Linked DNA regions of Homo sapiens. The protein of the gene in region 1 interacts with the protein of each later gene in a pairwise test. Each region holds a gene or a part of one and is shown on either strand. Other genes may lie near its edges. The genes, in order: DNAJC13 and SCAMP1.

What was found.
Region 2: the proteins of DNAJC13 (region 1) and SCAMP1 interact in binary tests that used the Homo sapiens proteins (3 or more experiments, as listed by UniProt).

Annotation. Positions count from the first base shown.
Region 1 is NC_000003.12:132,419,647-132,428,015, forward strand, and holds part of DNAJC13 (dnaJ homolog subfamily C member 13), read left to right. Parts: exon of another isoform or gene 1-2,071; intron 2,072-8,369.
Region 2 is NC_000005.10:78,363,525-78,370,616, forward strand, and holds part of SCAMP1 (secretory carrier-associated membrane protein 1), read left to right. Parts: intron 1-7,092. UniProt on the Homo sapiens protein: Functions in post-Golgi recycling pathways. Acts as a recycling carrier to the cell surface.

The DNA.
Region 1 (8,369 bases):
TACACATACCTTTCCCCTGCTTCTGATTGAGGTACTTTAAATTAGTAATTGAAACAAGGCTGTGCAGATAAACTGCAGCACAAATTTGGTTGCTACAAATAGGTTTTGGCCTAAATGTTCACTGTAAAACATGGCAGTAGTTAAAGGGGAGTTATTAATATTTTGAAAGAGTTCCTTGAGTCAGTGTTTCTCAACTTTATTAGACCCAATAAAGGCTCCCTTTTTATAAAAAATAATTAGTAACACCTTCTTTGCTATCTTTAGTTTATAAATAATGTAACTACCTCTGGCTTTGGCCCTGAGACAAAAAAAGAAGCTTTGCTCTCACTTCTGCAACAAAAAAAGACCTACACTACAAATTCATGACTTTTTTGAAATCTATTAAAGAGCTGAGTCCACAGAGCAAAACCACTGGCTGAAAATTTGAGAGACAGTGCTTACAGAGAGTAGATGTCAATTTCTGTTTACCGTCTTCAGACACAACTGGACAAAAAGCATGATGAAAGCTGAATGCACAATCTTGCAAACTCTTATCCACAAACCTCCCTGGGTCTACTAGAAAAGACTGGAAAGAACCCTGGGTGAGTCTGCTGTGCAGATTGAGAGGGAGAGGAACAGCAACAGAACTTTTAAGAGGGTCAAGAAACTGCTGTGATTCTTCCCCTCTGCCTCTTCTATGGAAAAAAGCTTTAATCTCTGGGGAGAAGGGTATCTCTGTTGGCCCCATTGGTGAACATTCAGGGGGTAGATGAGAAGTGGGAGAGAATCTTATGCCTGGAGGAGGGGCCCTGAGCCCAAAACTGCAGTCGGGAGTGGTCAACAGAACCGAGAGTGCTGCCCTCCTGAGATTCAGGAACACAGTGTTTGACTTAGACTTAATCAGAACATCAGACTGTATCCCCCACCCCCAACCCCCTGCCACCAAGCTAAGAAGCTTTCAGTAACAAGTAACCCACAAAATACTACTAGGAAAGGAACAAGATTATGCAAAGAGGCACAACACAAAGAATCAAACAGGCATTGCTCTAGTAAACCATCGCCCACCAGAGAGACAAACTGTTCTGCAGATTCATGAAGGCTGTAATACACTGAGGATAACTATGGCAAAAACAAATCATAAACTAAGTCCAACTCCTAACCAGATTAACACAAACCCTTCACCAAAGGCCTCACAAAGAACAGGCGTGCTCATTTCCAGTCATAAAAATTACCTCAATCTCTACTCCTACACAACATGTCCAGCTTTTAACCAAAAATTATGAGGCCCATGAAAAAAACTCCCAAGAGAAAGAGCAGTCATCATTATACATTTTTTAAAAAGATAGGAGCTTAAAAAGAACTGTTTTGTACATGTTAAATACTATAATAATGACATTTTGCCTTGAAAAAGTTTGAGCAAACAATGCAGTGAGCATTGGATGGAGTTATAGTTTCTGAATTACTGTGAAGTAGTAGAAGGAAAAAAAGTTATAAGATGGAGTGGAAAATTAGTAACATATATGTGAATGTATGTGGTTCATTGACCACCTGAAGTGTGTGTGTGTATTTTGTGAATTCCTGCATGACTCAGTTGGGTACAATTTTCTGCGTTCACTTAGTGTTGGGACAGAATCACTATAAGCAAATGTGACATTTTCATTATGCTCAAATTGTTCAGTAATACACCAATCCTGTTAAAATTCACATGATCAAGAAAGCATTATAGCAGAATTGACTATATGCATTTCAATATGTAAATAGTTAAGTATGATTATACCAAAATACACAAAGGACGTGTCAGAGGCTTGTATCTTTACATGGAATCATTTTGAGATTTTTTTTGTGTGTGTGAGAGACAATCTTGCTCTGTCACCCAGGCTGGAGTGCAGTGGCACGATCTTGGCTCACTGCAACCTCTGCCTCAGCCTCCTGAGTAGCTGGGACTACAGGCGCTTGCCACCATGCTGGGCTGATTTTTTTTTTTTTCTGTATTTTTAGGAGACAGAGTTTCACCATGTTGCCCAGGCTGGTCTCGAACTCCTGACCTCAAGTGATCCACCCACCCAGGCCTCCCAAAGTGCTGGGATTACAGGTGTGAGCCACCATGCCTGGCCCATTTTGATTTTTGACAGAAATGTTGATGTCTACAGATTTGTCACATTGGTGACTCAAATACCACAATTGAGATTATTAGCATTGTCAGAAAAGAACAGGGTTAATAAAGTATAATCTCTTAATTTACATTGCAGCCACATTCCTGGAAAAATCTCTGTATATTAAACCCTGCAAAATGTACTTGGTGAGTTATATATAAAACAATTAGAGTCTGGGATTCATTCATTATAAATAGGTTTTTGCCTACATGACTAACCAACTAAGCATTTGGACTTCTGGACTTTTTTCTTTTTCCTTTTTTTTTTTCTTTTTTCAGACCTCACTCTGTTGCCCAGGCTGGAATGCAGTGACACGATCATAGCTCACTGTAGCCCTGATCTCCTGGGCTCAAGCGATCCTCCCACCTTAGCCTCCTTAGTATCTGGAGCCATAGGCACGCCATGCCCAGCTAACTTTTTTTTATTATTATTATTTTTAGTAGAGACGAGGTCTCACTATGTTGCCCAGGCTAGTCTCAAACTCCTGAGCTCAAGCAATCCTCCCACCTCAGCCTCTCAGAATGCTGGGATTACAGGTGTGAGCCACCATACCTGGCTCACTTGGACACTTGAAAGTCGTATGGTGTGGATGGTACTTATCTTTGGGACTGTAATGTATGTTGAATATCTAGTCTCATCCACTAAATGCTAGTAGTGCTCCCAGTCATAGTGCCTCAGATGGGATGGCATCCTAGCCCAACCATTACTTTAGTTCAAAATTTTAATCAGTGGTTTTCAACATATTTTTTCTGTTTCAGCAGTGTTCACATACCCAGCATATGCCAATTTATAACACTTCTTGTTATGTGGAGTGATTCTTAATCATAGGAACTCCTTTGAGAGTAACTGAGTTAGATTTCTTTGTAACAAATAGTTTAAACCAACATGGTTATGATCATCTTTGCTAATTTAAGATAGTTACCTGTGCAAAGGTACATTTAGGTGTGGTTCAGTCAATAAAACCATATAGCTTGCTAGTAATTCTTTTCAGATGCTCTTTATTCAATAGTCGACATATGGGAGTTTTACTTGTACTTTCATGGACTACTTGTGAAAAAGAGTGAGCTTTAAAGTCAGTGGAATTTTACAGTTTAAGCACTCAAGTTGCCCTTAGAAGAACACTGCCTAGTCACATATTTAGCACATGCCCAGTGGTAATATCTCTTTGCAATGGATTAATAAGAGTTTGATATTTTGATTATCAGATAGAAAACAAAACCCCTAAAGCAATCCAGAATTATTTTAGCTGGGTGCACAATAATCACACGTGTAATCCCAGCACTTGGAAGGCTGAGGCGGGAGGATCACTCGAGGCCAGGAGCTCCAACCTAGCTTGAGCAACCCCGTCTCATCAAAAAATGAAATAACTAGCTGGCTGTGGTGACGTGTGCTCGGGAGGCTGAGGCAGGAGGATTGCTTGAACCCAGGAGACTGAGATTACAGTGAGCTATGATTGTGTTGCTGCGTTTCAGTCTGGGTGACAAAGGAAGACCCTGTCTCTTAAAAAAAATTATTTCGACGCTTTGATTTTTGCCAGCTCTAGTTGCCACAACTTAATGGAAGGGTTGGTGAGGTTATGAATGGAGGAGATGTTCTCTAATATTTCATGTATTCTGTAATACATTTAAACGCTTATACATGGTGTTCTCACTTTTATTGTATTCCTTAGTCATCTAAGGCTATGGGGTTTCTCTCCTCAAACTTCTAGTCAAGCTACAGAATGTATTTTGAATGTTTATCAAATCTTAGAGCAGATAAGCCATTTTCCCCCCAAATCTTAGCACTAATGGGCTTAATTTTAAAAGTGAAACTTTGCTTTTTTAAGATAATTTGGTAGTGTTCTATAAACTGTAAAGCGCCACAGAAGAGGTAGGAATAATAGGGATATTTCAGAACTAAACTAGAAATGTATGTTTTTGCTATTTTGTATTGAGTGAAGGGGAAATTGTAGCAAATTAAACTTTTGTCTTTTAATAGTATAAAAAGAACAGTGTTTGGGTTTTCAGGATGCTTTCTGTAAAACTGTCTTCAAGTTGTATGTGTTAAAAGCTTAGGAAATTTAGTCCCGCATTATGCATTTACTGTAATGATAGGAAAAACAGCAACAAGTTAAAATATGGCTGCTAAAAATTTCTTTTGCCCATTTCAGGGCCTGTTTACCATAGTAGAGCATGATTATTAAGTGCCTTAATAAGCTGATAAGCTTAATAAGTTGATAAGCTGAAGACCTTACAGAAATAGTATAGTTTGTTCTTGCATAAGCCAGGTTATGCTTCAAAGATAAAATGAAATAGAAATTAGGTCTATAAAGTTACAATAATGTGTATAAACTAAAAATATGTAAATGATCAATAGCAATGATTTCAAAGCATTGCTTAAGTGAACATGTTTCTGGAAAGAAAGCTTTCAGGTGAGTATTTTAAGGCATTTTTAAGCTTTGGAAAGGGAAGGGTCATAGTAATACATCTTTCACAGAAAATTTGAATTTTTTTAACAACAGATAAACTTCTGTTTTGTCAGAAATACAAATTATTCCCCTCAGATGAAATGAGCATACATGTGATAGAAATAGAAGAGACAGGTCTCTTTTCAATACTTGATTTATACTGTTGAATAGAAGAGGTCAAAAAAAGTAACTGCTATGGTAAGTATGCTTGTCCCCTCCTCCCATTAAGTGTTTCTTCAGATTTAGGGGTTGCTTTTGAATTTTTCTTGCCCTGTATTTCATTAATATATACTCAGTTTGTAATAGAAAGGAATCAAGTTTTTAAAAACAATGGTGGAGATCTCATATTATTTCAGCTACCCTATGGTAGTGAAACTAGTTAAAAGTTGATTATGATGTGACAGTACAATCACTTCACTTTAAAATATCTGGGCAATTATTTGAAGATATGATTATCAGATGAAATTTGATATTACCGCTGGCTTTTTTTATTCTTCAACGACATCTATCTCTGGAGGTATCGGGTTCTTCAGTAAGTTAAGGAAGGCTAAGATGGTAGGTACTAAAATCTTTGTGATGTATTTATGGTTTGTTTTAAGATTCCTGTTGGTATCATACATATTACACATACTGATTTGTTGTTCATTTAGAAGAAAATGCTTTTACCTGTACTTGAGTCATATATTAAAATGAAGCTAAAATTTAAAAATAGGGTTAAAGTTCATATGGCAGTTTCCCCCATACACAGCACATTCTATCTAAACAGTTTAGTTGTAGCTATTTAATCTGGGTAAAAATGAACATTCTGTTAGCCATTCATATTTTTTACCATTTGTTTGAAACCAAACTAATCTAGTGCTATGATTTACTCAGATTTTGAATCCAGTTACAAACAAACCTAGATCCTCAAGAAGCCAATATAAGATATTCTATCTATTACTCTTATTAGTTATTTTTTCAAAGGGTTAGTCTTTCCATGGTTCTCCTTACTACCCCTCCCTTTTTGGTAAGATATAGCTGTAGGAAGTATTACGTTCATAAATTAGTTCCTATGATGTGAATGTCTGCTACATTTTAAGTGTGGTTTTGGAATGTAGCATTGTTTCTGTTGTAGGAGAGTTTGATCAGAAAAGGCAAACTCCACAATTTTCACCCAACATATTGTAAACATTTTCACCTACAGCCAGGTTGAAAGAACTTTACATTAGATACCCACATGCCCACCTAAAGGTTTTTACATTAACATTTTACTGTACTTGCTTTATCACAGATCTGTCCATCTTTCCATCAATCCATCTTATTTTTTATGCATTTCAAAACAAATTCACATTTTTAGTTATTGAGGGCAGAGCTAATGAAAGTAAGTTCCGTTCTTGCATTTTACAGACTCAAAATGGGAAAATCAGTAGCTTACCTGTTCTCTGCAAGTTGTCATATTTGTGTAAAAATTACTTCCAGTTGATGATGCTAAATACGTGCTTTAAACAGGTGACTAGCCTGATTAATGCCAATCCTTCTTTCACTAGTGTATTTTTTTCTAAGTGTATTCATTCATCCCTAGTTAAATGAGTGTTCTGCTTGTGTTTTTGCTTAACACAAGCCATGTGTATATACTTAATTTTGCTGTGTGTGTAAATTTTTTTGCTTATAGCTTGACCGTAATTGGCTTGAGTGTCTGTGGTGTTGAGTCCCTTCATCTTGCTTTTGTTCTTAGTGTCAACTTGATGTAGGCTTCTTCTCACTGGACTCCCAAATCCTGTGGTTTTCTGTCAAAATTATGTGTCTTCTAAAAGATCATTCTCATTTTAACCATAAATGATCTTAAATGGTTTGCCAGTATTACTGCCAGTAATAAATTAGAGAATGCAAGAATATTGTGTTGTTCGAAAGCATGATGCAGTAGTATTCATTGAGAGAGGTGAATCTAGCCAAAATGCCTGTGTTGCCCTGAATTTGACTTTTTAACCCATAGGACAGTTCTATAAAAAGAACAAACAGAAGTTTCTTTGGTGGTGTAATTTAGGATATAGCATGAAAACAAGTGAAGCTGACTCGCAAAAATTGGAGATGCTTTCAATGCAATTTAATTACAAAAGGCATGTAAATTTGATTTTTCCTCATCAGAAAGAATCATGGGTCTTTGAGAATTTGAAATATGGAACACAATTGCAGGAATGAAGGAGATGAAATTTAAGTGACGTTAGTTTGAGCAGATAAATTCCTGCTATTTCGAATAGCCTCTAAACAACTGGCAGAATGGCAAATGCTAGTGATACAGCTGCTACCAAGATCTCATTCAAGATCCCATTTAACTGTTTACATTTTTTAGTTGGACAGTTTGTGGTTGTTGATAGCATGTGCTTATATTTGACTGTTACTGATATTACCTGCTTGATACTTGAGCTTCTGATACTAGAAATTTTACAGATTTTTTTCATCATAAATAGTGGAAATCAATGGTTGCTTAAGAGTTTTTGCCTATAAGTGATGATTTTTTTGAATCACTTTTAGAGCTTATTAATGTACAGAGGAAATATTGACTGCAGATTAAATTTATTTTGTGAAGTTTTTTTTTTCTTGAAAGTTTCTCAAGCCATAGTTAATTTGTAGCCATCAAACATAAATTTAAAAATATTAGGTTGGATACATGTAAGGAAACAGTTCTAACAACTGAAATTTCAAATACCTAAGTGGGGAATATTAAAAATGTAGTAAATAAGATTGACTTGTAATAGTATTTTGTAGGAATAAAGTTGAAATAAAAGACAAGCTTAAGTGTTGGGTTATAGTTGACAAGATGATTTTTAAAAATTTCATCTATCCTGATTATCTTGGTGTTTATATATACATATGTGTGTGTGTGTGTGTGTGTGTGTGTGCACGTGTGTGTGTGTGTATATATATATATATTTTTTTTTTTTTTTTGAGACAGGGTCTGACTCTGTCTCCCAGGCTCGAGTGCAGTGGCAAGATGAGGGCTCGCTCACTGCAGCCTCAGCCTCCCAGGCTCAAGTGGTCCTCTGACCTCAGCCCCCCAAGTAGCTGGGACTATAGGCCTGTGCCATGACACCCAGCTAATTTTTTGTATTTTTAGTAGAGACAGGGTTTTGCCATGTTGCCTGGGCTGGTCTTGAACTCCTGGACTCAAGCGATCTGCCTGCATTGGCCTCCCAAAGTGCTGGGACTACAGGCGTGAGCCATCGCACCCGGCAATATTTTTTTCTTTTTAAAAACGTTTTATGGGAAACATAAATTGTAACAATAAAATAATAATGACAGTAACAATAATAAATGGCATCCTCATGTACATCATTCAGTTTAAGAAATATATATTGTTATAGTTATTTTTGAATGGTTAAGTAAAAGTGAATGCTGATTAAATCAATAGAACACTGTACTTTTGAAGGTGAACATTCTAGGTGATATCTATTGCATACTAGAGGGATTGAAATTAATAAAAGATTTAGAGAAAATCAAGTAATTTAATAGAATTTCCCCCCAAAATGCTGTATTAGGTACAAGAGCTGGTAAGTTCTTGAAAATAAGATATAGTAGAATTACCCAAAATAACTTCTTTTTTTGGGTTATCTCATTTAGTCCTCACCATAGCCCTTCGGGACAGTTATTCCTATTTTATAGACGTACTATAATTCAGATAAATTCAGAAACTTTTGTTCAAAGTCACGCAGCCAGTAAATGGCAGTTATAAAAATTCTCCAGCTTTATCTTGGTAATAAATAGATTATTAACATCATTTTAATGGAATGTTAATGTAGCCTGTTGTGCTAGTC
Region 2 (7,092 bases), on another chromosome or scaffold:
TTTTATTTGCAGTATTTGAAGATAAAGCTCTTATTTTCAAGTATATGATATTTCGCATTTGGTAACTATGCTAATTTCTTTTTCATTAAATCCTATTTGTTTTCCATTGCCTTTTTCATTTTTTAGCATTTCTTTTCCTTCACTTTTATGTTAGGAATACTTCTGCAAGCATCTTCGTTTGTGCCGTATCATGAAAGTAGTTTGAGTCTATTCTCCTTATATAATATAACCATAGTGGTTTACTTGATTTTATTGGTTCTTGTAAGGCTATTTGCTGGATTCAGTTCATTTTTTTTTGTTGAGCCCCTGCTTTATATTCTAGTGGTTTTCCTAGGCTTAGTGAATGGTTTTATGAAATTTGAATGGCTTTCATTGCGCATCAAGAAACTTGGAATAACTGGAAATCTGTAGTGATCGAAAAGAAAATAGGTGATTAATTATATAGAAGTTTCTGAGGATCCACTCTTGAGCTGTTAAAATGGGGTTTTAAAGCTATAGAGGGAAAAATATTTTCTGTATAGTCAACATGTAATTATTGAAGAATTGCTGTATGTCCTTTGTTTTCTGTTGAGTTTATTCATTCAACAAATACTGAAGAAGTGTCTCTGTCCTTATGGCTATTAGTCTAACAGTGAGACAAATATGCTTGGAAAATGAATGAAAGGGGAGAGTTTAATAACCAGCAGAGGTCAGCAATATAGGCTCTTACAAGTCAGCATAAGAGTGTATGGTTAAGTGCCGGAACAAGTGCAGTTTGTTCATAAAAGGAAGAAATTAGTAAGTGGTCAGAAAATTTTCATGCTTTATGCTTTTGCATATTAACATGATAATTGATTGAATAAGATAGTTCATTATGGAAATAACATTTAAATTAATTTTTAAAATATGAAGAGAATTAGAATTTCACAGCTGGGGGGGCAAATTCTTAAAATATATTCAGTCAGATCTCATAGATTAAAAAACAAAGCCCACAGAGGCACACTTGCTCATTGTCTTGTGCCCATGTGTAGGTAGTGTAGAATTGGCATTAGAACTTAGGTCTCCTGATTTCTAGTCCATTACTGGTGACACTGTATGTGCTCCCTGGTTGCATTTTGATACCAAAATTCTTGTTTTGTATTTGGAGGTTAGAGTTGAGGGGAGGCAGCAGAGGATAGGATTAAAAAATTTTGGCTCAAGAATTTGAAAAGATCTGGGCTTGATCCTGGCTTTGACACTAACTGGTTGTGAGACCTTGGAAAGTTACTTAACCTCTTTCAGACTCAGTTTACTCATCGCGTGTTCTCACTCATAGGTGGGAATTGAATAATGAGAACACTTGGACACAGGGTGGGGAACATCACACACCGGGGTCTGTCATGGGGTGGGGGGAGGGGAGAAGGATAGGAGATATACCTAATGTAAATGACGAGTTAATGGGTGCAGCACACCAACATGGCACATGTATACATATGTAACCTGTACGTTGTGCACATGTACCCTAGAAGTATTAAAAAAGAAAGACTCAGTTTACTATTTTGTAAAATAGGGTAATAGTACATTCTCTATAGGATTGTAAATAGGATTAGATGAACATACATTTAGCATATAGTAAGAGCTTAATGTATAGTGGTTTTAATTAGGTACTAATATTTAGTATTAATAGTAATTTAAGAAATTCTGTTTAATGGCCAGGCGCAGTGGCTCACGCCTGTAATCCCAGCACTTTGGGAGGCTGAGGCGGGCGAATCACGAGGTCAGGAGTTCGAGACCAGCCTGGCCAACATGGTGAAACCCCGTCTCTACCAAAAACACAAAAAATTAGCTTGGCGTGGTGGCGGGCACCTGTAATCCCAGCTACTTGGGAGGCTGAGGCAGGAGAATTGCTTGAACCTGGGAGGTGGAGGTTGCAGTGAGCTGAGATGGCACCACTGCACTCCAGCCTGGGCGACAGTGCGAGACTCATCTCAAAAAAAAAAAAAAAAAAAAAAAAAAGTTCTGTTTAATAATCTCTATATGCTTAGCTATGAATTTAGTGAAATTTATGTTACTTTTGGATCTTCTGGAGTGCTGGTAGTAGCTGTTTGACTGATCATAGTCAAGGAATCAAAGCTAAAAATAATTAAGTGCTTTGCCTACATCAACCTGCTAGACTAGACCAAGGTTGTCTGAATTCTGGTGCTTTTTCACAACACGTAGTTCCTCCCTAATAAAATATCTCCATGTTAAAATTGAGCATAGTGTCCATTTTGTTTTGGCCTCAAAAATTAATTTTAGTCTATTGAAATTTTTTTTAGAAATGGCCTAAAATTCAGCATTCTCACTTATGTTATCTTTTAAGTTACAGTAATCTGGTGGCATTGTAAGAGTTGAAATTTAAAATTGAAAATGACCCATAATTCAAGTGTGTTATTCATTTGTCTTAGTCTGTTTGGGCTGCTGTAACAAAGTATAGTACCTCACAGTGGGTAATTTATAAACAACAGAAATTTATTGCCCAGAACTCTGGAGGCTAGGAAGTCCAAGATCAAGGTCCCAGCAGATTCAGTGTATGGTGAGTCCTTTTCCTCATTGATGGCATCTTCTTTGTGTCCTCACATGGCAGAAGGGGATGGCAGCTCTTTGGGGCCCTTTTCTTTTCTTTTCTTTTTTTTTTTTGAGACGGAGTCTTGCTCTGTCGCCCAGGCTGGAGTGCAGGGGTGCCATCTCGGCTCACTGCAACCTCCATCTCCTGGGTTCAAGCGATTCCCCTACCTCAGCCTCCCGAGTAGCTGGGATTATAGGTGCATGCCACCATGCCCAGCTAATTTTTGTATTTTTAGTAGAGACGGAGTTTCACTATGTTGGCCAGGCTGGCCTTGAACTCTTGGCCTCAAGTGATCCACCTGCCTCAGCCTTCCAGAGTGCTGGGATTACAGGTGTATGCCACCACACTTGGCCTCTGGGTCCTTTTTTTAATAGGGATATTAATCCCATTCTTGAGAGCAGAGCCCTGCTGACCTAGTCACCTCACAAAGTCTTCACCTTCTGATACCATCACGTTGGTGATAGGTTTCAGCATGTGATTTTTAAGGAAACAAACGTTCAGACCTTAGTTTTCATTTTGTAACATCAAGAATGTTATCCATCTTATTTCATTTACCTTGACAATGATACTTACAAGTTGATTTCACTCCTCCCTTATCTGTTTAAAATTTTGAGGCTGAGCTTGATAGCTCATGCTTGTAATCCCAGTGCTTTGGGAAGCCAAGGCAGGAGGATTGCTTGAACCCAAGAGTTTGAGACCAGCCTGGGCAACATAGTGAGACTTCCATCTCTACTAAAATTTAAAAGTTAGCTGGGTGTGGTGGTGCACACCTGTAATCTAAGCTACTTGGGAGGCTGAGGCGGGAGGGTGACAGAGTGAGACCCTGTCTCAAAAAAAAAAAAAAAAACCCAAAAAACAAACAAAAAAAAGATATAAAATTTTGAGTTTGGAGATTGGATAGCACTAGGAAAGTATTCTGAGGATTTCCTTTGTGATTGTCACATTTTGAAAACTGTCTTTTAACATTAATCTGGAACATAGTGGTTGCAGTTTGTGGGCCTGTGTTATTTTACGTTCATGTCAACTGCATGAATTCCTGCTCATTTTTCCTCATGTTAATGTTTTTAAAAAGCACATATTGAGCTGCTGTTATATTTCATCAACTTAAGATGCCATCCTTTGTAAGATGCACCATTATCTTATTTACCACTGTCTCACTTATCTGTTGCTATGTAACAATCCCAAAATATAATGGCTTAAAATAACAATTATTTGCTCACGATTCTGTTAATTGCGCTAGACTTAGCTGGGCAGGTTTTTTCTTTTTTTTAATGTTCTTTTCTGGAGTCACTAAAGTGGCTTCAGTCACCTGGTTTATGGTTTCAGATATCCTTACTCAAGTGCCTGCTGGTTACCTGGAGATGTCAGTGGGCACAGCAATTAGCTGTCTTTCATGTAGCCTCTCTACTAGTAATAAATGGGCTTTGTGCATAGTAGCAGCAGTGCTCCCAGAGGGCAAGAGCTGAATCTACAAGGCTTCTTGAATCATATGCTACTTCTGCTGTATTCTGTTGGTCAAAACAAGGCACAAGTTCAGCCTAGATTTTAAAAGGAGTGGCAAGCAATAGGCTCCACTTCTTGACTGGAGACAGACCTATGATCTGAAGATACACCTAGTATAAAATGGCGAGGTAGTCGTAGGATAACTTCACTAGACACTCCCATTCAAATAGGGAAAGAGTGGGAGGCGTGTAGCACCTGCTGATGCATAGCAGTTCTGAAATCTAGCCAGGCACGTGTTGTTAGGGTCCCCTACATTGGGGACAATGAATGTTTCTTGATTAGGGCCCAGTTCTGCTACCTCGTATTGGTTCCTTCACCTGTTATTTTCTTCTGCTTTTGGCTCCACCCTCTGAGAGGTCCTTTATTTATTTTTTTCTATAAGAATGAGCCCTTTTGGCAGCTGAGTAGCATTTTTGGCCTGCTTCTTGCCCATTGAAAATTGGGAGCCCAGAAGTTTCTATTAATTTTGAACTGTTTCTTTAGTCCAGGCTGTCACAACTCTCTTAACAGTTTCTTTTTAATCTTACCAGAGTTCAAACCATGCCTTAAAAACCACATTTGTCATTCTTTTTGAGACAATCTTCATTTAGGGTGAAGTGTCCGTTGCCATGGTCGGTATTCTTCAGATGTTTAGAAAACTTTTGTCTAGGTTGAGCATCTCATATGGCCAGGGGAAGGCTGCTGCCATAGGAGGCTGCTGTGCCACGTGACAAAACTAAGATTTGAACACAGTTTTATTTTGGCCCTGTAGCTTTACAGTCATATGAGATGATGGTGATTATGAAAATTTCGAAAGTAAACTGTTCTTGTGCTGATATTACCAAAAGTTTTTTTTGGACTATGATTAATATTTAATAGTGATAAATGCAGATCCAAATAATTTATTGGTTATTTCCTTAATATGAACCACCAGTGTGATATAGTTGCTGAAAAATATATATTGGCTTAGTGAAATTAGTGATCAGTTCCTTAAAATTAATAATCCTATAGTATTCTGTTCTGGTCTAATAGCTGGGTATTCTTCTCAATTGCAAGTGCATATTTAAAGAGTGGTTTGAAAATACTAGGATATGCCCAAAGAGGACAGTCAGAATGGTCATGGGACTGGAATCAAGTTCTAGGAAGAACAATTTAAGTTTCAATTACTCAGTGGATTTAGTCTACAGAGGGCTAAAGGGAAATAGGAGAGCTCCCATCAGATACTTAAAGTGTTCTTAGGTAAGTGAATAAACTTGTTATTTGTTGCTTTAGAAAAAGAATCTAAGGTTAACTGGCAAAGTTTACTTGAAGGTAAAGGTAAATTTTGTCCAAACAGACTTTTAAAAATCTGCTACCATGGCCTGACAATGCTCTTTTGGTAGGGCATTCTCCAGCACTTGCAGAAATTCAAGCAGAAGTTGGATAACCTACAGAGATGCCTAATTTCAATATTGTAATGTCTCAGGGAATAGGGAGACCCAAGGAGAGGGACAGAGAATGGGAACAACTGGTTGGTGGAATAGTCAGGACACACAATTTTTTTTTTTTTTTTGAGACAGGGTCTCTCTCTGTCTCCAAGGCTGGAGTGCAGTGGCGTGATCTCGGCTCACTGCAACCTCCACCACGCAGGTTCAAGCGATTTTCCTGCCTTAGCCTCCCGAGTAGCTGGGACTATAGGCGTGCACCGCCACACCTGGTTACTTTTTGTATTTTTAGTAGAGACGGGGTTTCACCATGTTGGCCAGGCTGGTCTCCAACTCCTGACCTCAGGTGATCTGCCTGCCTTGGCCTCCCAAAGTGCTGGGATTACAAGCGTGAGTCATCGTGCCCGGCCAGGACACATAACATTTATCAAGTAAGTTTGCAGTGTTATGGGCATGGTTTGTGGCACCCCAAGACAATTACAGTAGTAACATCAAGTATCACTGATCACAGATCACCATAGCAGACATAATGATAATGAAAAAGTTTGCAATATTGCGAATACTACCGTAGTGTGACGCTAGAGATGTGAAGTGAGCACATGCTGTTGGGAAAATGGTGCTGCGAGACTTGCTTGATGCAGGGTTGCCACAAACCTTCAATTTATTTTTTTAAAAAAGGCAATATCTGTGAAGTACAGTGAAACTAGGTATTCCTGCATTTTCTCTGTTCTAATATATCGACCATATTGGATATTGGAATTAAGTATGATCAGTTCAGCTAGAGAGGATGCTTTATGTTCAGAGACCAGCTATGCTCTGAGCCTCAGCTTCTGCTGAGGGAGCAGCCCTCATGGTAGCTTACACATTTGTGATCATGTCCTCTAGGGTGTGACTTTTGCCACCCTGGCCTCAGCTGACTGATCTTAACAAAGGTACTTGTCCAAAGCAGTGGAATAGCAGTTATCTCACTAGGCTTTTGAAGGCCATTTTCAAGAATTCCTGTCCTTCATTAGAGGTGTTTTTTAACTAGAAGGGATGTGCCATGTCATGAAGAATTTCAATCTCTGTGAAACCTGGCGTTCTTCTTTCTGTATATATCTTTAAAATATTCTCCTGCTCCCAGCATTTGGGGTGACCTGAGTGAGTCTGTCTGTTTCAACCAGAATTGCTAAACCGTAAGTGTAAAGTAACATTTTCTTGCCAAAAGGGTGATAGAGTTAAGCCTGTATTTAGACCTACAGTTTTTGGTGGTGTAGTGGAGTAATATACTTGCAAATATTGTAAGATGTTTTTAAATCACAAGGGAGAATTTTCCAACTTTCAGTGGGTGTGGGATATAAAAGGTGACATGGAGTTTGGTTAGATTTAACCTTGTAACAAGTCTCTGAGTTGTTCCTACTGAGGCAGTCTGTAATGTCCTGCAGCGTTTGACTTCATATGTGTAGACTGGTGTGGAAAACCCTGTTCTCCTTTCTGTGCAGAAGGCTTGCAGATCTATACCCAGAGAGCAATCCAGTAATCCCCTTCTCCTTGGCATTTGGCTTTGGGTGCTTTTCAGAATTAGTAATGTTTCTTTATCCATTGCTGGACACCTAAGTTGTTTCTGTTTTTTGTCTATTA